3 separate regions of the Homo sapiens genome follow, and regions 2 and 3 are each linked to region 1. Evidence: fine-mapped expression QTL. A gene starts in region 1. Each other region holds a variant in brackets. All regions are shown on one strand. Distances are between the middles of the regions.

What was found. PIP is the estimated chance that this variant, and not a neighbour inherited with it, causes the effect.
Region 2: its variant is fine-mapped to the expression of CABLES2 in unexposed skin (GTEx, PIP 0.99).
Region 3: its variant is fine-mapped to the expression of CABLES2 in iPS cells (iPSCORE, PIP 0.95).

The regions. Positions count from the first base shown.
Region 1 is chr20:62,403,935-62,412,103 of GRCh38, forward strand. CABLES2 (Cdk5 and Abl enzyme substrate 2) reads right to left here and starts at 3,351. Exons shown (of 10, transcript NM_031215.3): 1 at 2,981-3,351. The coding sequence starts at 3,342. RBBP8NL (RBBP8 N-terminal like) reads right to left here. Exons shown (of 14, transcript NM_080833.3): 14 at 6,303-7,062. The coding sequence ends at 6,944. LOC105372709 (a long non-coding RNA gene) reads right to left here and starts at 2,960. Exons shown (of 2, transcript XR_936967.3): 1 at 956-2,960. RefSeq lists a silencer at 3,268-3,517 and an enhancer at 6,750-6,809.
Region 2 is chr20:62,374,209-62,382,377 of GRCh38, forward strand. It overlaps LOC105372708 (a long non-coding RNA gene), which reads right to left and starts at 4,619. Exons shown (of 2, transcript XR_936966.4): 1 at 4,072-4,619; 2 at 1-3,278. RefSeq lists enhancers at 187-790, 791-1,392, 3,801-4,402, 7,076-7,756. The variant A/G (reference allele first, on the strand shown) is at 4,115.
Region 3 is chr20:61,800,161-61,808,329 of GRCh38, forward strand. All of the region lies in intron 4 of CDH4 (cadherin 4), which reads left to right. Among named protein-coding and RNA genes, the nearest start is that of CDH4-AS1, 49 kb to the left of the region's middle. RefSeq lists enhancers at 2,440-2,960, 2,961-3,481. The variant A/G (reference allele first, on the strand shown) is at 4,234.

The DNA of each region.
Region 1 (8,169 bases):
ACCTGAAATCCCAGCACTTGGGAGGCCAAGACGGATCACGTGAGCCAGAGTTTAAGACCAGCCTAGACAATATAGTGAGACCCCATGTCTGCTAAAATAAAAACTTAGCAGGGTGTGGTGTGTGCCTATAGTTCCAGCTACTGGGAGGCTGAGACAGGATAACTCGAGCCCAGGAGGTAGAGGCTGCAGTGAGCTGTGATTGCGCCACTGCACTCCTGCCTGGGAGACAGAGAGAGACCCTGTCTCAAAAAAAAAGAGGCTCTGCTCATCTCACACTGACTCCTGCCACATACCTCACCAAGCCCTGGGCACGCATCTGACCTCTGACCTCAGGGAGGCCATGCTTAGTGCTTAGTGTGAACCCGCTTCTCAGAGGAGATTGAGGCTCAGAGAGGCCATGTCACCTGCTCAAGGTCACAGAGGTACTGAACAGTGCAGCTGGGATTCCAAGCCAAGTCTGTTCCCAGAGCCCAGGTCAAACCACCACACTCACAAGACCAACATCAGGGCTGCCTTCAGGACTTTCAGAATTCTCTCCATTTCCTGAAACCAACTCATCCTAGAACTCTCAAGCCAGGAGCTAGCAGCCCCTTTTGCCGGGGCAGCCACCCTTCCCTCGATCAGCAGCCAGGCCCAGGGAACGCAGGGTGAAATGGACGTCCTCACGCTGGGGTCTACCTATCAGGGAGGGGCCATGGCCCTCAGAAACAAGGTCAGCACCACGAACTTGGCAGCAGAGCCCCAGGAGGGACGCCTCCCCCTCCAGGAACAGAGTGGGGTTCAGGAAAGACCTGAACAGGGACATGGGGGCCAAGGAGGAGGGAAGGGAGGAGACAGCCCTGGGCAAGGCAAGGGGTGGTGGCGCTTGGGCCCATGGTGGGTACGGCAGGAGGACTGCAGGCACCCAGCCCATGCCACGTCCCATCCTGTCCCAGGGATGCCGGCCACAGCGCACCTTCTAACAATCCCACAGGGCAGGGATGTGCTGCACGTGGGCAGCATGCTGCGCTCAGAACTGTCACCATGGAGGCTCTGGGCCTGCAGGGGGTGCCTTCTCAGTCACAGGCACTTCCCTGCGCGTCGCCACGCTCTGCCTCCCTCCACTCAAGTGGGCTCCACTCCACGCCAGGCCTGGTGCACACAGGGGTGCATGAACTCTGTGGAAGGAGGGCCTATGACAGCACCCAGTCTGCCTGGTGTCACCATCCGGTTCTGGACACTCAACATGCAGGACTGAGGGAGAAAGCTGTTTCCATGTCAAACAACAGGGCCCGGGGTTAGGGAAAAGCCCACCACACCTGCGGAGCTCGGCCCGTTGGGGTGAGCCCGCTTCCCCTGGAGTCCACACCTTAGGGCCTTGCCGCTCTGCCCTGGAGAGTCACCACCTTGTTCCATCTCTCCCGCCTTCCTGAAGGAGCTGGCCATGCCAAATGCATGGGGCCTGGCTGCCACATTTGGGCAAATCCATCCCTCTGCCCCAATCATCCCTCTGACCCTCCCTGGAGCAGCGGCCAGGCATGTCCGTGGGGGGACATCTTGTGGACAGGCCTGGGTCTGCAGGCACCCTCAGCCTGGCTACGGCCAGGAACACTTCCAAGGATGGAGTGCACCGCGACCTGCGTGTGACGCAACCTGCATGTGACGTCATAGTCTTTGAGGACAGAGTGCTGTGTTCTGGGCCCAAACTTCCCCAACCAAAGACCTTAGAGGAACCCAATGCCTCCACCTGCCCGAAGGCCAGGGGCGTGGGGCAACTCTGATGACCTCCAGGTAAGCAAGGAGCACGTGCCAGCCTTGACCCAAGAGCTCTGTGTCGGCCCCTTTGCTGCACACCTGCAGGGGCTGCCTCTGGGAACAGCCGCCCAGCAGGCACTTGGACCTGTGGACAGTGGCTCCCTTTGAGAAGGAACCGCAACAAGCAGCCAGTCCTGGGCCCAGAGCCCACAGTCACTCCTGGAGGTGAGGGCTGTGGGAGGCAGGGTCACCCAGGTCCTGTGGTCTCTGGGAGAAGGACACAGGGTGTCGGGCAGCCAGGGGCCATCTGGGCAGGGGGCACACGCTGGACAGGCAGGGCTCATGGTTGGGGTTGCCCTGGGATGGGCTGAGGTGGTTCCCAGAAATGGAATCAAGGCAGGGGGAGCAGTGGAGACCCAGGGTGTGACAGACCCAAAGATACCGAGCTGAGAGTGATGTGGGGAAGGGCGGGGCTCAGCAGGGAAGTGACAGGGAGAGGAGGGGTGCCAGAGACCAGTGGCTGTGGGATGGGAGATGTGGCTGTGCAGGGGCCTCTGGGAACAGGTGTCAGTGACAGTGCCAGGAGGACCCCGGCCCACATGCTGGGTCTGAGGAGGTGGGCATGGACGGTGTGGCCCGGTTCAAAGAATGCGAAGAGATGCACAGGGCTGTCCATGTGTCCCTGTGTCCCGGGCACTGGTACCAGTGGATGGGGGTGGGGGCATGTCCAGAACCCACAGGGCTGGGGGTCTCAGGGGTAATAAGGGCTGAACCCTAAAACCCATTTCAGAGCACTGACAACGTGGAGATCCAGACCCCGTATTCAGGGGCTGGGAGAATTCAGGGGACAATGAACCCTATGTGTGGGGGGTGACAGGGCCTGAGGAAACCCTCAGCCAGCCCAGGAACCCCCAGTTCTGTATCCAGGACTGACAAGGTCCCAGGTGAACCCAACCCCTGTGTCCTGGGCTGATGAGGGCCCAGACTGACCCTGACCCCTGTGTCCTGGGTTGACAGGGGCTCAGGTCACCTGAACCTCTGTCCAGGGCTGACAAGGCCCCAGGTGAACCCAACCCCTTTGTCCTGGCCTCTGTCCAGGGCTGACAAGGCCCCAGGTCACCTGACCCCCTTGTCCTGGGCTGATGAGGCCCCAAGTAATCCTGACCCCTAGTCCTGGGCTGATCCGGCCCCCGTCCCCGTCCCTGTACCCCGCGTCCTGGGCTGACCTGGCCGGGCCCCCACTCACCTCTGGCGCTGCCCATCCAGGCCGAGGCCGGTGGGCACCTGCGTGGGGCTGAGCAGGCCCTGGGGCGCGGGGGTCCTGGCGGGCAGCCCGGTGGGGGGCTCCGGCGGCGGCGGCGCTGGCGGTTCGCGGGCCTCGGCGGGCGGCGGCGGGGGCTTCTCTCCGCCCGGGCCCAGGCTCGGGGGCCGCCCGTCCAGGGAGATGTTGTTGAGGAAGAAAAGCGCGGCCTGGCGGCGCCGCGAGTCCCCGCGCCTCCGCAGCGCCTGCGGCGGGGCCCGAGCGGCCGAGGTCGGCGCGGCGGGTGGCGGGGGCCCGGCGGGGCCGGGGGCCGGGCCCGGGGCTCCACCGGCCGCGGCCGCGGCCATCCTCAGACTGCGCCCGCCGCCGCGAAGCGCCCCACCCCCTGCCCGCGCGCCCGCGCGCCCGCCGCCCATTGGCCGCGGCGCGCCCACATGCAAATGTATCGCCGTCGCGCTCTCCCATTGGCCAGCGAGGTGCCGCGCTCAGGGCGCTCCCCTGGGTCCTAGAGGCGGTCGGACGCAGCAGCAGGGAGTCGGGAGCTGCGCGCCTCCCCGCCGGTTCGAGTCCCCGTCTTGGGACCTGCGGCCGCGGGGCTCTCGCTTTCTGTTCCCTTTGCTGTATGGCGGCCTTCGCGGATGGCCTCCATCGAGCGCACATTTTAAGGCTCCGGACCCAGGGCGGCGTGGGTGAGGCCCCAGCACACTTCCCTGTCCGGAGGTGTGTCTGGGCGGCGCTTCAGCGGGCGCAGGGCGGCCCCTGGAGGAGCCCCACCGCTTCCCGGAAGGGCCCGCGTGCCATCTGGCCTCCTTCATTGACAGAAGGGAACGAGGGTCTGAGTGGAGAAGGCACCTGCTTGGGATCAAAGCCCCAGGCAGAGTCCTGCACTTCCTGCAGTAGCAAAGTGACCTTGAGCCTGCCTTGTGCCCAGGCCTGTTTCCTCTCTGTGCCTGGGTGCCCCTGACTTCAGAACCTGTGAGCCCGTGGCACCGGGATGGTCAGGGCCTGCCTCTGGAGCCCGGGAGCCTGTCTGCAGTCTGGAGGGGAACCCGCTGTATCTTTGTGGAGGGACTCAGGACCTTGCACCCACCTCTGTGTCACCTGCCTGCTCTGTCCAGCTTTCTTTCATGGGTTTACGTATCTTTAAAGAGGGGACAATGATTTCAGCCTCAGGGTACTGTCAGGATGAAACTGGCTCAGTGAGGGGGTCGGGCTGTGGCCGGAGGCCAGGCACATGCAGTGGTCAGTCCGCGAATGCGCTGCAGTACCTCGCACCTGCCCGCATGCGCCCAGCCTCTCCTGTGCTGGGTGCTGGGGACCCGGTGGGACCGACAGGCACAGCGCTGGCCCTAGGAGCACCTGGTGTGTGGGGAGGCAGCATGATGGCCAACAAGGCAGTGGGCGAGTGGGCAAGACAGGGTCTTCATCACCACCCCTAGCATGGGCCCCTGCCCTTCAGGCCCCTACCCACCTCCCGCCTGCCTGCTCCCTCCTGTGGGCCTTCACGGGCCACCATTGGGGCTCACGCAGCATGCAGCACCTCCATTTCCTTTCCCTCCGCCCTTCCAAGTTGGCCTCCAAGGCCTCTGCCAGGCCTAGGGGAAGGTGGGCAGCTGTCCTGTCTAGGAGAACGCGGGGCTGGGTGGCATAGCAGAGGGGTGGCTGCGGATTCTGGATCCACAGAATGGGGTGCTGACTTGTGTGCCTGGGGGCTCCCGTGAGCGGGGAGTGAGTGTGTCCAGCGCTGTAGGGTGCTGAGGCTGGGGCAGGCACACAGTGGGCCCTCCATCCCTGCTGGCTATCACCAGGAGGAGGGGCCTGACAGGGGAGGGTGGGCCATACACCAGCAGCTTGCAGAGAATCTGGTGTCAGATGAGAACAGAAAGGGGCGAGTGAGGGTGGAGGGCAGGACGCAGGAGGCAGGAGGCAGCTGTCCGTGCTGGCTGCAGCGCCGGGTCCTGGGGATCGGCTGTGCAGTAGGGGGGCCCCTAGCCAGTTCTTCTTTGCTGGCGCTAAGCTAGACTTTGAGGGACAAGGAGGAATGCTGAGGAAGGAACGGGGTCTCTTCCTGGGTCTGGTGAACCCCCTTGCTAGGCTCCCGCTGCCAGTCTTCTCCCCTCCCCAGGGTGTCGATGGGTGGCCAAAAGCCAACCTGGCCTGCGGGCAGTGTGTAGGGAACACACGGCTTTTGTTTCGTGTGATTCTGGAGAAATTAAAGCAACCTTTAACACACCTGGACTTCCCTCTTGGGAGTTCAGTCCCTCTGGCCTCTCAGGACAACAGGCAGACATGTCACAGGCTGCAGGTGGGAGGCAGTGCCCCCTGAGTCAGGCCCGCACCCCAGTCTGGCCCAGGCCTCACCCAGCCCAGTCGTTGGCCCGTGTCCTGCCATCCCTGTGATGCGTGGTTTTAAATGCCCAGCTCACCTTGGTGCTTTGGCTGCAGAGGGCCCTGCTCATGAGTTTCGCTCCTTATTTTCTTTGGCTCTCACCCTGAACTCTGAGCAGGTGTCAAGCGCAGGGCTCTGTCTGGATGCTCCTGACTGCAGGCCTGGCCCTTGGGCTGACTTCTTAGTTTCCCCCTTGCCCTGGCACCCCTCCGTGGCCCCCACCTTTCCTTTCTGCCTGATCCTTGTCCATTTTTCTAGAGTTGGGGTCTCAGCAAACTTCCCAGAACATCCTAGCTCCTTGCCTACTTGGCACACTCCTGTTCATCCCTCAGAACCCAAATTTGGGTTGCAGGTGCCACCTGCCTTGACCTCCCAGGGACACCTGCTCTCCTCCCCGTCCCCCAACACTGGCCATGACTTGGTGCCATTGCTCCTTTGCCCACCGCTCCCTGATGCCCAGCAGAGGTGTCAGTGCCCAGTGTCTCTGCCCTGTAAGGGGCAGTTCTCAGACTTCACATTTAGGAGAATTACCTCTGGGAGCTTCTTAAAACACAGACTCCAGGCTCACCTCTAAAGTCCTGGTTCAGTGGATCCGGGGTTGGGCCCAAGAATCTATTTCTTAAGCTCCTCCCACGAAGCTGGGAGGGACTGATACTCATCCTCCCCCGAGGAGCAGACAGCCTTGAGTGCTCCCGGTGGAGTCCTGGCGAGCTGCCCTGTGGCTGCCAGGCCAGGGACTAGTGAGGAGGGGCAGGTGCACACGGCCGCCGCTGTGGCCAGGCACTTCCCCGAGGGTGCCCTGGTCCCTTCCCGCTGCAGACTCTGCAGAGGAGCTGGTTTTATTCTGCCCTCCCGCAAGGGGGTGACCTCCAGTCCCTGGCACAGTCAGTGGTGTCCTGGGGCCCTGCCAGACACATGCACGGTTCTTCAAGTGTTTATTCTCCGTCACTCAGGGGACCCGGTCTTCGAGGGTGCTGCCGCCCACTGTCTCCCTCCACCCTCACTGCCAGACATCTGTTTGCTGTCAGCCCACGAGGGGGCGTCCAAGATTGTGCTTGGAGCTTGGCGGGCAGGGGTGGGGGTCCGAGTGGTCCGTTGCCTCCCAGAGCGTGGGCACTGCCTGGGAACGGCTGCAGTGCACAGCAGGGGTAGGGCTGGGCTGGAGCCTGAGTGATCCCGCCTCCAGTCCCCACACCCCTCAGGGAGCAGGTGCTGGGCTGTGGGAGGGGCCGCAGAGCATTTCCCAGGTGGGTGGAGACGGGGTGAATCGCCAGCCTGAGACCCCTCTCGGTCCTCCAGCCCCTCTTGAAGTGGGCCAGGATGTGCCCGTCACCGGCTCTTCGGGGTTGCCTGCTGGTTGGGTGGTGTGCCCTCTCCAGGCTGTGGTGAGCAGGCAGAGAGCTGCCCTGGGCTCACTGTGGGTTCAGCTGAGGCTGGCTAGGTCTTCTCCCAGGGTTCTGTGCAGGGCTGCCTGCTGGTTGGATGGTGTGCCCTCTCCAGGCCCTGGTGGGCAGGTGGAGGGCTGCCCCGGGCTCGCTGTGGACCCTGGTGCAGGCTGGCTAGGTCTCCTCCCAGGGGCTGCTGTTGGGGGAGGGACTGTGGTCCTCGGCGTCCCTTGGGCTCCCGGGCCCCTCAGTGGCTGTCAGTTTCCTTCTCCCTCTGGATGGCTTTTTGGAGGCTATGGGAAGTGGCCGGAGGTCAGGCCGGAGCTGTGTGCCTTCCTTTGAGGCAACACTGGCTCTCACCTAGGGCCTCCTGGGTCTCCTCTGGGCACGGGGAGCTGGGTGCTTGGGGAAGTTTGCTGGCCACCCTTGTTCCTACAGAAACCGGTGCCCAGAGCAGGGGTAGCCCGATCTGAGGGTGAACCCTGAGAATTGGGTGGAGGGTGGACACTCTCCCCATTGTGTGACCCCGAACACGGCACTGACCCCAGTGGCCCCCTTCCTGCCTTGGAGGGAGCCAGGCCATACTGGCTGGCCTGACACTGGCTGCGGGCCTCAGCAGGCCTGCCCCCGGGCTAGGGCCACATGGGAGGGGCGCCTGGTTCCTGCGATGGTCCGGGGACGGGGATCCTGCCGAGATGCTGGGCTTAGGCCATCTCTGAGGCACAGCAAGCTCAGGCTCTGAGTTGAATGGGTCAGGTTTGAATCCTGACACAAGTCCCAGACCTGTGACCTTGGGCAAGTGACCTCTCCCCTCTCAGCCTCAATTTCTGCACCAGCCAAACAGTGATGATCCTACCTGCTGGGCAGGGTCATAAGGCTCACAGGCAGCCACAGCTGCACCCACTCTTCTGGGGCACTAGGCACGAGGATGCTGGCTCTGGCGCTGAGCTGTGCTCATGCTGGGCAGGGACCTGCTCTCACTGATCGCCACAGCAGTTTCTCAGGAGCCCCTGCCAGCGTCCCTGGTCCCGGCTCAGGTAGGAGCACAAGGGTGTGCTGGCTCACAGACTGCACCCCCCGGGGCCATTTCCACCCACTCAGCAGGAAGTGCCTCAAATAAGGGCCGTGCTGGTCTCTACTGCCGCTCCGGGCAGACGCAGGCCATGGCCACCTGCCGGCAACAATGGCACACAGTGGCGGCACCACCCCGCCTGCTGCCTGCGGGCCTTGCCCGGAGAAAAACCAGGGCCATACAATTAGGTGTTCAAAGTCTCTCATGGGCTCCTGGACCCCAGCTGGAGCTGCCATTGAGCCCAGAGCAGGAAGTGAAAAGTTGTCCCGATACCCTCGGACCAGGGCCGAGGCTCCTGCCGGCATTACTGGGAGGAGCTGGGTCCAAG
Region 2 (8,169 bases), 30 kb before region 1:
ATGGTGGCTGAATGACCGATCGCCCCTCTCCCGTCACCTTCCCACTGCCCCGGGACCCACATCCTCCCACACCAGGCGTGGCAGGCAAGGGCCCAGTGCCCAGACTCCAGCCTCTTTTTATGCCCGCCTGAGGCCCACACCGTGATCCTCACTCTATAGCCACCAACAGAATCAGGAAATAAGACAATAACAACTACAGGCAGGATCCTGCGGGGACCAGTGTGGTGTCCAGTGTGGGAGCTGCTAGGACACCAGCTGGTGGTTCCTCAAAGGACTGAACACAGTTGCACACGGCCCAGCAGCTCCACACCTGGTAGCTGCAGAGAGAAGCGTAAACACGTCTCTGCACAGACACTCGTGGGTAAACACGCACGGCAGCGCCAGGCACCAGAGCCATCAGGCAGAAACAGCCCGAACGGCCATCCAGGGTCGACTGGGGAGAGAAACGTGGTCCATCCACACAGTAGACATCAGTGGACAGGAGCGGCACTCTGTACAGGCAGGCTCTTGGAGGGGCTGCCCAGGGACCAGGGACCGGAGGCCTGGGATGTGCCATGGCCACTGGCCCCTCGCCAGTGTGGAGGGGGAGAGGGAGGAGCACGTGGATGCTGAGTGAGCCTGCAGAGCCAGTTCAGGCGGGCAGGTGCCTGGGAGTCTTCAGGTGGAGGTCAGTAGAAGCAGGGTACTTCTTGGTGCTTATGGGCCACCCACACAGCCTGCCAACACCAGCTGGACCTGTGCTCATGCACAGAGAGGTGGGGGCCTGTGTTTAGGGCCATCACATACCCAGGACACCCAGCCCTACACACTGACTCAGCCTGGGGCGGGAGAGACAGCCCCGCAGCTGCCTCTGTCTTCAGCCCGGTCTGCCAGGAGCCTGAGTTACTAGGCAGGTCCAGGGCCTGACCCCCGTCCCCTAGGGTCTTCATTGATTCAAACCGCCAAGCAACACCTCAGCCACCTCCACCTATTGCCAGCCCAGTTTCACGAAAGGAAGGCTGAAAGGTGGGAGGATGGCAGTGCCACTGAATCCCCTGGGCTGGCTGCCCCAGCTCCGGCAGGAAGATGCCCCAGCTGGGCCCCCATGTGCCTGTCCCCTGCCAGGAGGGGGAGGGGGAGGGGGTGGGCCAGGTGAGGAGGTAACCCCAGGATCCCACTGGGCCCCCGATGTGTGGAGGGGCAAAGTGTGGGTGGGCCCACTCCAGGCCTCTGTTTGCCACAAGTTCCAACATTAAGAAAATATTTGCAGCTCTTCTGGGGAGCTATTTCCTGGGGGAATGTAAACACACGGAGACTTGGAAGGCTCCCGCTGACCACAGATGGTGCTGGGGTCCACTGGGGGCCCACGTTTCCTCTCGCAAGGGATCTGGACCACCCCCGGCAGCCAGGTCAGGGGTCTGTGCGTGGCCTCCCATGGGGCTCTCTCTCAGAACCCGGGAGTGGCAGTGGGGATGGCGTGCAAGAGAGCAGCTGCCACGGAGCCTCCTGGCGGCCAGGGTAGGGCCTGTCGGCCCAGTTGCCCACTGCCTGCTCCTGGCTCCACAAAGGGCTTGCTGGGCAGCTTCAGGTCAGAGGCGCAGCCCCCACCTCCAGCCCCCTGAACATGTGGGGGTTGTGTTTTCTTGACCTGGGCCCCCCCGTGCCTCCCTCCCACCTCTGTGCAGGAGAGCCAGGCAGCCCGTGCAGCCGACATCAGGCCGGGCGCGGAGCTGGCTCCCATCTCCTGCGAGGGACCTGCTCTTGTTTTTTTTTGTTTTTTGAGATGGAGTTTTGCTCGTCGCCCAGGCTGGAGTGCAGTGGCGCGATCTCGGCTCACTGTAACCTCTGCATCTCGGGTTCAAGCGATTCTCCTGCCTCAGCTTCCTGAGTAGCTGGGATTACAGGTGCTCGCCACCACGCCCAGCTAATTTTTGTATTTTTAGTAGAGACAAGGTTTCACTATGTTGGCCAGGCTGGTCTCGAATTCCTGACCTCAAGTGATCCACAGGCCTCATCCTCTCAAAGTGCTGGGATTACAGGTGTGAGCCACCGCCTGGCCCCCTTGTTATCTGTATTTTACAGATGGGGAGGCTTGGTTGCAGGTGAAGTGTGGCCATGTCCTGCCAGCCCCCCGGAGCTGGTGAATCCCTGCCTTATCTGCAAGTGGCTTCTCCCCACACAGAAAGGCGAAAGGCGACCTCCGCCTGAGTGTTCCAGCAAAGGCCGACTGGCTCAGCTCCAATATGCTGAGCTCGGCAGAGCCTGGACAGGGCTCCCCAGGCCCCGCAGGAGGCTGGCGCAGGCCGCAGGCTGGCCTCCCTATCTCCACCAGGAATGCACTGAGCCCCTGCACCCCTGCCCACCCAGGTGGAGGAATGTGGCAGGGGCTGCTGGGAACTCGGAGCCTGGAGGAGGGCTTTTGAGGCCTCTGCCTCCTGGAATTCCCCAGGCCTGGCACCAGGCGGCTGCTCCCTCAGGATCCGCCTGCCTCGGCCTGCCCCCAGGCGGCCGTGCTCTCAGATTCTCCTCTTCCCAGGCTGTGGGGACCTGCAGAGGAACCGGGCCATCTCAATTCCGCTCACTCTGTGAAAGTCCCCTGCTCAGAGAGGCCTTCCCTGGCCACCCTGCCCCTGGAGCCCCTTCATCCGGGCCATGGCCCTTCAGAGCCCCTCAACAGGCGCTGGTCAGACAGTCTGGCTGGACACTGACCTGAGGTGGGGCCGCTTGGCCCCCACTCCCAAGAGGCCAGAAGCACTTGCCCTCCAGTCGTGACAACCAAAAATATCTTCTGAGTAGCCCCATGTCCCGGGGCTGAATCTCCCCGGTGAGACTCACAGCCCTACACCCTCCTGGGATGCCAGTTGTCCCGTCCTAGGCTGCGAGCTCCCTGGGCACAGGGCTGTCTGTTCCACGCACCAAGGAGCGCCTGTACCCAGCACGGGGCTTGGAAATGGCGGGTGGACATGACGGGTGTTCTGTGCTCTACGGTTCCCGGCTTCTGATTTGCAATTGTTCGGTAGAAACCGTACTTCCAGTGCCCACACAACCAATCTGTTTTTCTCCTTCTTATAGCATTGGACAAATTACGTGAGGCATTTGATGCATTATTATAAAGGAGGCTTCGTGGGGGATGACTTCGCCCAGCTGTAGGCTAATGGAAGTGTGCTGAGTGTGTATAAGGCAAGAAGGCTCAGCTGTGATGTTCCGTGGGTTAAGTGTATTAGAGCATTTCAGCTGTCGGTATTTCTAACCTACCACGGGTTTATCAGGACGTGGCCTCACGGAGGGTCGAGGAGCACCTGTGTTTGTGGAGTGAATGAATGAAATGAATCAATACTGGTTCTCATGTAGCCTTGTCATGCAGGCCTGGAGCTCAGATGGTTCCTGGCTCCTGGTGCAGGCTCCTGGGGACAGCAGTCAGGCAGGGGCTGCCCTGTGTCCTGGCCGGATGGTTGGGGAGCTGGTGGGCCTGGCCCATTCCTTGCCCAGTCTTGGCTCAGTGCCTCCCTGGCTGGGAGCCTGGGAGAGTCTTAGGGCTTCAAGTGCTGAGCAGGGACAATGGTGCCTCCCTGCTGGGTGGCCGTGAGGCCCCCTGAGGGGAGTGGGCAAAAGCACCCCGAGGCAGGGGCCCCAGGAAGCGCTGAGAGGTGGTGGCGCTGTGGGAGGGAGGTGGGGGCCGCGGCTCTGCCTGACTCCCAGGCCGGGTGCCAGGTTCTTGGCAGGAACCCTCCTGGGCCCTGCCAGTTGCTGGGCGCCTCCCACCAGCATGGCCGGTTGAGAGGTCTGCATGGCACGCAGTGGCCGGCCCGGGGGTGCAACCCCATCCCCTCTCTGGGGTCCCTTTGCAGGGCAGCCTTAGGATCCATTCACTGTGGCCCCAGGGCCCAGGGCGACCTGTGACCCTGCGGAGCCACCTGCAGGAGTCCCAGCAGATGAGGGCCTCTGGCTGCCCCTCAGGGGCTTGTTGGGTCCCACAAGAACTTCCAGGGCCTCGGAGCTCCAGCCGGGCCACAGAGCTGGGAACCTTGAGTGGCTGGGAACCCTGAGGAGCTGGGAGAGCCAGGCTGAGCAAGACAAGCCTGGGCGACTCACCTGGGGCAGGAATGTGGATTCCATCACTCCGCAGAGGCTTTCA[A/G]GCAAAACACAGCCTCGTCTCTGGGCCTGTTTCTGCCGTGCGGGCACGTCCAGCCCGACGCTCTCAGAAGCAGCTGGGATGGGCTCGGGGAGGTGGGGGTGGAGCAGGAGTCCCAGCCGCCTTCCTCTGGGGCCCATCCCAGGCTCCCGGCTGGGCGCCAGCAGGGCTCCAGAAATGAGGGGGCCTCACACCGTTGCCTCTGGACGTGCCGTGCCCGAAATCCCGCCATTCCCACTGGGCATGCCGGGCCCTCGAATCCTCCATGACTCCAGGGAAGCGACTCCGTCCCGCTTGGCCTCAGTCACTGCTCTGTCAATGGGATGATAACTGCCCTTCCCGCAGGCTGCCATGGGGTCTCTGCGTGGCCCCAGCAGGTGCCAGGCTGCTGGTCAGGACCCCTCGTGGGCCTCCCAGGAGGTGGCTCCTCTCAGGTCACAGTTCACAGGTGGAAGGATGGAGCCTGCTGATGATGGCTCTCCAGGCCCTGCTGTCCTGCCCTGGCACTGGGGAACTTGTTCCATGGAGCCCTGCATCCGGCCGGCCACTCCCTTCCCATGCCTGCTTGCTGGCTTAGACATTCTGCACATTTCCCAGAGGGCAGGAGGAGCTAGGCCCCGAGAGCCAGTCCCAGGCCCCTTCCTGGACACATAGGCAGACAGAGGTGGCTAATTTTCTTTTTCTTTTCTTTTCTTTTTTTTTTTTTGAGACGAGTCTCACTCTGTCGCCCAGGCTGGAGTGCAGTGGTGCGATCTCCACTCACTGCAAGCTCCGCCTCCTGGGTTCCCACCATTCTCCTGCCTCAGCCTCCCGAGTAGCTGGGACTACAGGCGCTCACCACCACGCCCGGCTAATTTTTTGTATTTTTAGTAGAGACGGGGTTTCACAATGTTAGCCAGGATGCTCTTGATCTCCTGACCTCGTGATCCGCCCCCGTCAGCCTCCCAAAGTGCTGGGACTACAGGCGTGAGCCACCGCGCCCGGCTAATTTTTTGTATTTTTAGTAGAGACGGGGTTTCACCGTGTTAGCCAGGATGGTCTCGATCTCCTGACCTCATGATCTGCCCCCGTTGGCCTCCCAAAGTGCTGGGATGACAGGCGTGAGCTACCGCGCCCAGCCAGAGGTGGCCCATTTTCAGTAGGAAAACAGCAGCAAAAGTAAAAGTTAGTTTTTCTCTGTGTCTGCAGGTGCACCCCGTGTGGACGCGACACTGCCTTTGCATAGTGCACCCCTCACGGTGTCCCTGGCAGTCCCTTTCCCTGTGGATCCTCCCCTCCACCCACGGTGAAGGAGGAACGGTCCTGCCTCCAAATGGGAAAACTGAGGCTCAGGGAGGAGAAGGGCCGGGTGTGTGTGGAGGTGGCACCAGAAACAGGCCTGATTCCCAGGTCTCTGCCTTAATTACGGTGCTGCCCTGGCTCCGGAATGCTGGGGCCTGGGGTCAGAAGTTGGCCTGGAGGCCGGGTGCGGTGGCTCACGCCTGTAATCCCAGCACTTTGGGAGGCCGAGGTGGGCGGACCACCTGAGGTCGGGAGTTCGAGACCAGCCTGACCAACATGGAGAAACCCCATCTCTACTAAAAAAAAAAAAAATACAAAATTAGCCAGGCGTGGTGGCACATGCCTGTAATCCCAGCTACTAGGGAGGCTGAGGCAGAAGAATCGCTTGAACCCGGGAGGCGGAGGTTGCGGTGAGCCAAGATCGCGCCATTGCTCTCCAGCCTGGGCAACAAGAGCAAAACTCCAGCTAAAAAAAAAAAAAAAAAAAAATTGGCTAGGCATGGTGGCGGGTGCCTGTAGTCCCAGCTACTCGAGAGGCTGAGACAGGAGAATGATGTGAACCAGGGAGGTGGAGCTTGCAGTGAGCCGAGATCACGCCACTGCACTCCAGCCTGGGGGACAGAGCGAGACTTCGTCTTAAAAAAAAAAAAGCCGGGTGTGGTGGCTTATGCGTGGTGGCTCATGCCTGTGATCCTGGCACTTTGGGAGGCCGAGGCGGGCGGATCACGAGGTCAGGAGATCGAGACCATCCTGGCTAACATGGTGAAACTCTGTCACTACTAAAAATACAAAAAATTAGCTGGGCGTGGTGGCGGGCACCTGTAGTCCCAGGTACTTGGGAGGCTGAGGCAGGAGAATGACGTGAACCAGGGAGGCGGAGCTTGCAGTGAGCTGAGATCGTGCCACTGCACTCCAGCCTGGGGGACAGAGCGAGACTCTGTCTCAAAAAAAAAAGAAGTTGGCCTGGAGCCGAGACTGGGGATCCGTCTATGCTGGGGTCAGAGGTCAGCTTGGGCCCAGGTCAGGATACAGGCCCACAGGTCCCGGGTGGGGACAGACCCCAGTCTCTGCCCCAGGTGGGCCTGGTCCTGGAGGCAGAGTGGGCCTTGCTTCTGGTCTCCCCTTCAGCTTCCTTTCTTTGAACCAGTTTGGCTGAGCTGGCCTGGCGCCTGGCCAGCGTGGGAGCCCTTGGTGTGTCCACTGGGATGGAAGTGCCTCTTTTCCTGTCATTTGGCTCAGATTTCAGCCAGCCCCCAGGAGGTGTGGGGAGAGGACTTCTCCGGGTCTCCCTGCTGGGTCAGCCTGTACTCCAGGGAGACTCACGGTGGGACCCAGTACCCAGTGCCCAGGCCCGGCCAGCCCAGCCCCTCTGCCTGTCTTCACCATGTCCTGGAAAGGGGCATGAGGAGCCTCTGGGGAGGGGGGTGGGGAAGGTACCCTGGACCCCCAGGCTCTGACCCAGTGCCTGCCGTGACCACAGGGGTGGGACCTTCAGGATCTGGGCACTTTCTCATAGGTAGGTTCTCCCTCAATGTAAAAATTCTAAAGTCTCATCAAGTAAAATAAATTCAAAAAACAAAATAGTAAAGTGAGTTAAAGTAAAACTGAATGGCACGAAATGGAAAGATGCGCTGGCCCAACACTCCCAGGGTCCCTGTGACAAATGCCGTGACAGTCTCCAGGGCTCCCGGGCAGCTGGGCCTCCCCCTCACGTTGGTGACCTCACTTAAGCCTCTGCAAACCTGGGGCGGGGCTGTTACTGCCTCTGTCTCTCCAAGACGAGAGGATGTCGAGTCATGGCTTAGGAGGCAGTGCCCCAGGAATCCCCTGACAGCTCATGGCCAGGTCCGTGTTCTCCCCACACCCCATAAGTCCCACTCTGAGGCTGGCTATCGTAGCCTTCACCCAAGAGCGGGTTCTATCTGGGGCAGGAGTGGGGGCTGGTGGCTGTAGCTCAGTGTCGGGCTCGCTGCAGGAGAAGGCCCATCCCACGGCCCTGACCTGCCACTCACCCGGACACCCACCTCCCTGGCCTGGAAGGAGGATTTCCTTGTTCTGGGCTTGTTCCCTTCTACACACAATGCATTTGGGGCTGGCCTGGGCCCTGCTTGGCCCAGAAACAGCTGCTCTGGGAAGGAGGAGGGAGGCTCTTCTCCCAGCCCGCACCACAGCATGTCTGAGAACATGTTTACCTGCCTGTGAGGTGAGCCTGAAGGAGGGGCTGGAGAGCAGAGCCAGGGCTGTTGTGCACAGATACCTGCCCAGGCATCCTGAATAGGGGCCCGTGTGAGATTGGGGTGGCTATAGTGTGGCCTCCTGAGTCAACAGCCCCAAATCCAGACCTAGTCTTGTGATCTTGGGCATAATAACGATGACAATGATGGTGGTGACGATGGTGGTTATGATGATGATGGTGACAATGACAATGTTGATAATGGTGATGATGGTGATGATGGTGACAGTGTGTTGGTGGTGATGGTGGTTGTGATGGTGACGATGATGGTGGATATGACGGTGATAGTGAAGATGATGGTGAAGATGATGATGATGGTGATGACAATGGTGGTGACGATGATACTGACAGTGATGATGGTGATAGACAATCATGACAATAATGATAGTGATGATGATGGTGGTGATGATAGTGGTGATGGTGATGATGGTGGTGGTGATGATAGTGATAGTGATGGCGATGGTGGTGATGGTGACAATGATGGTAGTAGCAATGATGATGGTGATGATGGTGAGTGTTAGTATGCTGGGTGCCACACCTTTTT
Region 3 (8,169 bases), 600 kb before region 1:
CAAGCAAGCGAGCGGCCTGCAGCCCCAAGGGCCCTTTGTGAGTGCTGCAAAGCCCCGAAGACCAGACCGCACTCCCTCGAGTGCACACACGGTGCTTCTGGGAAGCTGCCCGGCCGCCAGGGGGGCAGAGCTCCTCGCCCCATGACCGGGCAGGGGCAGTTCTGCGTAGCCGACTCTTTGCCCCCTCCTTGGGCACTCCCTTTAGACTACGCCAAGAGTCCCATGCCCGCCGCAGGGCTGACCCAGCTTCAGGGCCACTGTCACTGCAACCATTTGCTGCACTCTTACCTTATGGCTCCACGGGGGATGGTGCTTCTCCCACCACTATCCTTGTGAATCTCCTCATCGCCCCCCACAGAAAGGAAATGGAGCCCAGAGAGGGTAAAACACCTGCCCAAAGACACACAGCCAAGACAGGGCAGAGCGGGGCTGCAGTGTGAGCCCTTCAGCTCCAGGACCACTGCCTGCCCTTAGGACCTGACAACCTTAAGTCCCCAGGATATGGGCAGGGGGCTCACAGGAAGTGCTGGCAGTGCCCGGCTCAAGGCAGAGCCTCAGGCAGGCCGAGAGCACAGATGGCCTCTTGGACACACCCCAAGGGGCCGGGGCTGGGAGACAGATGGGCTGGAACTCCCTGCCTTCCCTTGCCTGATAACAGGCCCACTGGGGACCCTGGGGCGTGTAACCTCTGGCACTCCACATCCTTAGAGCCCACCAGTGAGAATGGCCAGTGTCCACTCCACAGTGGCCTCGGGCCCATCTGCGCCACACATAGGGTAGGCCTGGGCATGGCTGCAGGGCCCTCCTGGGACCCTCCAAGCATCTTGGTTGGGGGCAGCTACGAGGGGCACTGATTGTCCCCTTCTCATCTGTCAGTTTGGGCACTGCAACCCCAGGCTTGGTTTTCGGTGGGGGCTTGAGAAACCCACCTTCTGCAGTGACATTAGTCCTCAAGACGCCACAGCACCGGGGCTCCTGCCTCCCGTTGGGAGGTGTTGAGGGCTTGGGGACAAAAGGCATGGACAGCAGCACCTCTCAGTGTCTGCAGGCTGCAGCGGGAGAGCCGGCAGAAAGCAGGGTGGTCCCCCGACACCTAGACATTGGGGGAGTGGGGTCAGGCAGCCTCTGGGCAGGGCCAGGGTGTCCAGCCGCATCAGCCAAGCGTCTCTCTAGGGTTGAGGGCATCAACCACAAACACTGGTGTGTGTGGTTAAAGCCATGGACCCTCAGAGTTCTGAGACGTCATCCCGAAGCCACCTGTCCTCTTCTTTGTGTCTCTGAAGTGCCGAAGTAGGTGTTCCTTCAGTGGTCACTCCCTGTCTGTGTGAGTTGCCGGGAGCTGCTGTCACAAATCACCACAAACCAGGTGGCAGAGAACAGCCCCGTGTAGCCCCACATGGTGCTGGAGGTCAGAGTCAGAGGTTAGTTTCTGTGGGTCAAAGTCAAGGGTCAGCAGGGCCATGCTCCCACTGGAGGCCCTAGGGGAGGACCCATCTCCTGCCCTTTCCCGTTTCTAGAGGCTCCTGCCCCACCTCTGTGGCTCCTGGCCCCTTGCTCTGTCTTCAAGGGCAGCAGCACAGCCTCCTCCAGCCTCTCTCTGCTTTCTTTCCACATCACCTTCTCCTCTGTAGTCAAAGCTCCCTCTCCTGCCCTCCATAAGGACCCTTCACATGGCCTTGAGGGGCCCCTGGGAAATCCAGGATGGGCCTCATCTCAAGATCCTTCACTCCATCACGTCTGCAAACTCTCTTTTGCCATGGAAGGTGGCATTCACTGGTCCCAGGATGAGAACCCAGATGTCTCTGGCAGCCGGATTCAGCCAGCCTTGCTGCCATAAGAGAATGCCATGGAGTTCCCAGACCTGTAAGTGGCGCAAGAGCGGGCCTCAATCAGGTCTGGTCTCTGCCCCTTTGTCCGGCAATGTCCTCAAGCCCTCCCCACCTTTCTCTTATAAACGAGGATGCCAAAGACAGCTGCATTCACAGAGCACCTCCTTGGAGCCAGGCCCAGGCAGACCCCTCCTCGGCTTCATTCAGCCCCTGTGGCAGCCCCAGAAAGGGCGCTACACACCCTGATCATGCTCTGTTCCCAGCAGAGACAACAGTCTCAGAGAGGTCAGGATTCTCACTCAAGGTCACACAGCTCAAAGTACAGAACTGGGCTTTGAACCCCAAAAGTCAGACTAAAGAGCCCACCCTGCAGCCACCCTGCTGTGTGTAGCCGAGAACCTCGTGGGGGTCAGTTGTGCCTGAGAAAGTATGTGAGGAAACTGAAGCTCCCCCAAAATCGTGGGGGTGGCCCCATCGTCCCTGTTTTCACTGTCTCTGAGTTAGTTGTAAAGAAAGGAATTTCTCTGCAGAGCATCGCTTTGAAGGAAAACTTACTTGGGGAAAAAAAAAACAACTGTCTCCGTTGGGAGCAATTTCCAAACGGGAGTCCACGCGTGGGTTTTTCGCTTGCTGCTTCAAGCAAATCAGCCATTTTCACTGCAGAATGGCTGCAAAGGAAATGGAGAAAAGGCAGAGCGCAGCCCTGGGAGCTGCCTCCCAGCCTGGGGGCCGGGCAGGGGGAAACAGGTGCCACCTGGGCCTAGACGGGGCGATGCCTGGGAGGAGAGGCTGGAGGAACCGGGCCTTCCCACCACGGGGCCCTGTCTGTGGCCACCGCCGTCCACAGAGGCTTCACAGGTGCATGCAGCGTTCCTCCCCGTCCTCCTGGCTGCTGCCTTTTGCGGGATAGTCGCAGGCTGGCTCTCGCTGGAGGGGCTTCTCCGAATTCTGTTTATCCTGGGTCTGGCTCTCTCCAACATGGCAGCTGGGGAGGCAGAGGAGGCGGCGTGTCTACCTTGTCACTGCCGGGGCCTGATTTACCAACAGGTCTGGACAGCGCTCCCCTCCTTCCCACGCCCCCACTGCTAATTGCCTGCCTGTAGAGCGGCCAGCCCTGTCTCAGCAGCGCGGCGAGTCGCAGCTCCGTCGTTGACGGTGTGTCCGCGATGTGCTGTGGGGTCCCGTCGTGGCGGCTGTGGACGGGCTGAGGTCTTCCTCTGGATGCTCTCAGAGTGGCAGGGAGCAGCCTGGGTACTCTCCACGCTCGGCACAATCCGCCCGGGCTGGCAGTTAGAGAAGCCAGGCAGAGAAGTGCGGCCAGAGAGGCTGTCCAACCCAATTTCCCCGGGCTGGGTTATTTGAAAGTCTAAAACTCCCTAATACCAAGAGACGGGCGGTATTTAAATTTAAGTCTGGCTCCCAAATGAAATCTTTTCGTTCAACTGTTCAACTTTATTTGGAAATATGAAATGGTAACTTGATTACATGTTAAGGTAGCTTTGGTCGGGGGATTAGAGCCGAAATCTCTGCCCCTCTGAGTTCATCCTCCAGCGAATGGAATCCATCCAAATTAGGAATCAGTTCTGCTACCGCGGGCGAGCCGCAGGCCTGGTGGCCTGGAGGGTGGGGCATCTTGAGGCTGCGGGATTCCAGTTACTCTGCATGGCCAGGATAAGGGGGCGCCCAGAGCTCTGCGTTCCCCAAGGGAGGTTGGAAGGAAACGTTCAACTGTGTGCTTCCCAGAGCCCTAGCAAATCACTCGATGTTTATAAACTGTCAGTGAAAGTCATTTGTAAGAAAAGCTCCATTTCCAGTGGCTCTGCAGCTTAGAAAACTCAAAACTGAAAAACACACGCCACCCAGGAAGGACAGGAGAAACGAGAACAGGCTCCATCGCTGCAGAGCGTGAGGCCGGCCCCCGCTGCGTCTGCTTCCAGGAGGCGGTGCCGAGACGGCGGAGGTAATGGAAGCAGAAACGAGTGAAACTTTTTTGTTGTGTTTAGCAAGTATCTCTTGTCAAGGAAGTTGCCAAACTCACAAATGTTCTTGCCAAGAGAGAGGCGCCTGCTCTCCACACGAGCTTGTTGTTGGTAAGGAGGCACGACAGAAAACGTGTCAAGCTGGGACCCGGAGCAGGTGGTGGAAACAGCAGTTTGCAGGATGTCGGTCCTGCCTGCATGGCGGCCTGAGAGCCGCCCGAACTGCTGTGCTGAGGACGGGGCTGGAGATTCGCCCTCAGGTGAGGGGCTGGCCTCTGCAGGTTCTGTTTTGTCTCTGAGGCATCACCAGACGGGTGTCACCAGCCACATGGTGCAGGTGAGGAGACAGAGGACCGAGGCGGGTAGAAGTGACAGGAGAGGCAAAGAGCTGTCCCCTGCACAGCCACTGTCCATGCTGTCTGACC[A/G]CCCCTCTCCGCCGTCCAGCCTCTGCATCTGGCCTCGGCCTCACCCACTGCTGGCCACCAGTCACCTGGAGGTCAGCCACACCCGGGGGGCAGCTCTGCTGTCTGGACCTCTGAGCCACACCGAAAGCACTCAGTCCCCCTTCCTCCTGAAGCCTCCAGGTCCTGCCCTCTCCTTACCATATGGGTTCCCCTCTGAGCATCCCTCCTGTCTCCTCTGTGGACCTGCCCAGCTCTCGCCTGGTGGGTGTGTCAGGTTTCTGCTGCCTCAGTGTGGGGATCCTCCAGGGGAGGGAGTGGCCGTAGCCTCAGAAGTGCAGGGAAAGTCCAGAGGGGAGTCCCCGTGTGGAGGCATCACCATCTAAGTACGAAACCAGAAGAAGAGATGGCTCAGAGGTCTGGAGTAGAACAGTCAGGACTCATCTGTTGCAAGGGGCAGAAGCCAACTCTAAAAGGCAGAGGCCAGTGAAAAGTGCAAGATTTATGGGGCACATAAACGGAACATACAGAGCTGTCAGCTTCAGGCCCGGCAGGATCTAGGCGCTCAGACAATGCCAGAGTCAGCAGGCGCTTTCCCCTCATCCCGCAGACCTGCCGTCTTTGACATTAGCCCCGGTCTCCACAGAAGCCCCAGCGCCAGGCCAAGAGTGCATCCCAGTAACTCCAAGTTCGTGGAAAGAGAGGTCCTTTCCTTCTTGTCATTCCAGCAAACATCTTGGGAGTGACTCATTGGCTTTGATGGGCTCATATGCCCAGCCGGAAGCCGGTACGGTGCTGAGAAGACTCTAGGCTCTGCTTGGCCAGTCCTTGACCCAGCCCCCCATCCCTACCCAAGCTACTAGAACAGAGAGGAGCAGAGAAGAACAGCTCCCTAAGGATCCCTGGGGTGCTGTCCCCAGAAGAGGGGAGAGTGGACAGTGGACAGTGAGCAAGCAAAACAAACAGGCATCTGCTGAGAAGTGGCCAGGATGGCCTCTGTGTTGGCAGATGGAGGTGGGCAGCATGGCTGGGTGTCCCACAGAGCCACACCCGAGCCCCATAACCATAAAGGCCAGCAAGGGTCAGGGCCACCTTTCCGGCCAGGCACAACCTTTCCGGGATCCAGAGGGTACACTCCCCTGCCCGGCCTCAGACACTCGCCCTCCTGCGAGGAAACACAGGCTCCTGTGTGCAGCACAGAGAGGGCAGCCTGCCCGGGGGTCTCGGACCCACCCCAGGTCAGAATCACCTGGGGAGCATTCGACTGCCTGATGCCACCCAACCTACCGCATGGCAGAGGTATGTTTAAAACTCCCACGAGGCCAGGGCAGTGTATTGGGAGATGCTCAAGCTCATTGATCATCCGTGGAAAACAAACTCAGGGAGGGGCCCTCTCACACCGGCCATCACCCCAAGATCATCCAGCCCTGTGGTGGGTGCATGAGTTGTCACAGCCAGAGCTCCACAAAGCAGATTTAATTTAGAAAGAGCCAAAATATGGGATCTTCATTGCCCGGCAGTTGCCAGCTATGTAGGTATATGCTCAGGAGAGACCCACCATCACTCACTCGGTGTCCACTGTGGTGCTGTGGAAAGCTACGCAGGCCCGCTGGGAGGTGGGTGCTTGGGGCAAGGGGAAGGCAGGAAACCTCGCCTGGGGGCTCCTTCCGCTCTGTGGCACCCAGTACTGAAAGCATTGTGGTTCGGGGCACATTTAGAATGGCTGCAGGATGTCATTCTGGAAGGAATTCCACATGTGTGTCTGTTCTAGGCAACAGCCTATTCTGTAGGACAGTGCGGCAGTGACCTCTTAGTAGCCAAAAGGACCCTTGCGTCTTCCCAGATGTCAGAGCCAGGCGTCGTGGCCTGCCTGCCTGACTGGTTGGGGGTGGAGTGTTCTTGTCACCACTGGAGAGATGAGGAGGGGGGCGTCCACAGGGCTAAGGAAGCCTACCCAAAGCCTCATGCCCAGGACAAGGAGACCAGGCACCACCACCTCCCACGGGGTTAGGAACACACGGGGAGGACCGTCCACTCGCCTGCAGGAGGGCACCAGAAACACAGTTTGTGCGGCCGTGCACACCCAGGGTGAGGAGGTGCCCTGTTAAAAGGGAGTGGGGAGGCAATTCCATACCCAAGTGAGCATCTGAGGAACACGTGTGCACACACATGTCCACGCGCACGCACACACATGTCCACGCGCACGCACACACACATGCAGTACCATCGGAGCAGGTGGAGGGTGGGGGCTGTAGCAGAGGCCGGACTGGAATTGCTCAGGGGCTGCTGGAGGAGCTGCCTCACCTTTCCCTTGGGGCTGTTTAATTCTGCGGGGGAAGTGAGGACACAGGAGGAAACCTTGGTCCCTGCCACGGCTGCTGTGAGCAGACATCAGGGACATGTTCATCAACATGCATGTTTTGCCACACACATGTGCACACCGTCTCTGTGAGTGGGAAGTGTCAGCATCTGGGGGTGGTGTTTTGTGCCTGTTCCTGTCTCCTGCTGGGGAGGGGTGGCCACAGGGCCTGGAGGACCTGGGTAAGAGCCGCTGCACTCCAGGTTTTCCCGTAATGCACGGTACAGAGATGGGGGCTTCTCCAAATCACAGCTACACTTTGACAGGGGATCTTTTTTTAACTACTACAAAGCCCTCTAATAATGGGTTGCTAAGAAACTGACACAGGAGATGATTTTGAAAATGTCTCGCTCATCCCCTGATCTATGAGCTCCCAGGGCCCCGCAGCCCCGCCAGCCCCCAGCTGCAAGGCCAGTGGGGCAGGTGCCGGGAGGGCCTCGGGAGGTGCCTGGTGGGTCCTGCCAGACAGAGGAGTGGCCTGTGGGAGAACTGCCCTGGGGAAGGAAGTCAGTGATGTTGTAGAGACTGGGTGTTGTCCAGTCCATGGAGCTGTATTCAGAACCACCAGGGCCAGACCCAGCCTTGCTGTGGCCCCGCTGGGGTCTTTGGATCTCAGGAGAGTGGGCGGTGGGAGAGGATTCCCTGAGCTGTAGAGTTTACCCTCAGCTTCTCGTAACAGGGTGTCTGGGTACCTAAATGTCGGAATTTGAGGCTATTCAAGTTCAATGTGTTGGATTTGGAAATCTCCCTCCTCTTTCTACTCCATCTCCTCCCGGCTGGGAAGTTGCAGCCCTTTCTCCCCGTCAAGGTGCAGCTGTGTCCACCATCAGCGAGGGGAGTGTGACCAAGGGCAGGTGTTCCGTGCAGGGCTGGTTGGTGTGAGGCCAGCCACAGAGTGGTGGCCAAATAGCATTCGGGGAGGTAAACAGAAGATTGTGAGAACAGCTGGGGAACTGTGGACGGCTCTTCAGACTCAAACGGTGTGATGAACAAACCGACTCGGAAAATGCCTGGCGCCAGTAGGAGGCCCAGCTAGCTGGGAGTTCTGAAATATAGGAAGGGAAGTGATAGGACGTCTCTGCACACAGCACATATCCATGCAGGATGGTCAGTACTGTCGCTTTCGTTAGGTTAGAGGCCGTCCACTGGGCAGCAGGCTGTGGGCCTGGCGGGATGCAGGCACAGCGCGATCCAGCACAGTGCTGGGTGGTCTGGGTGCCGCCTCAGGGCAAGCTGCCATAGCAGCGATGAGCCCACACACGTCTCCAGCCCTGACAATGAACCAGTAATCCAGCTCCTGGGAATCCCGGCACAAGGGAGCTGAGACCAGCAAGTGTGGTCAGCATGCCCCTGCCACACAGAAGCAGCATGGAAATAAATCCTCCTTAGCTGAGCACTGGGCCCCCACAGCCTGGGGAAGGCTGCGGGGGCCCAGAACCGTGGCTCTGGCAGGAACAGAGCTGCAAGCCCCACCCCAGCCCTGGGTTCAAAATCACCCCGTCTCAGCCAGTCACTGAGGAATCCTCACTTCCAGAACCCCACTTTGATTTCAAACCTAAGGGATACAATCTGTTTTCTTGGACTTGTTTCAAATGTAGCAA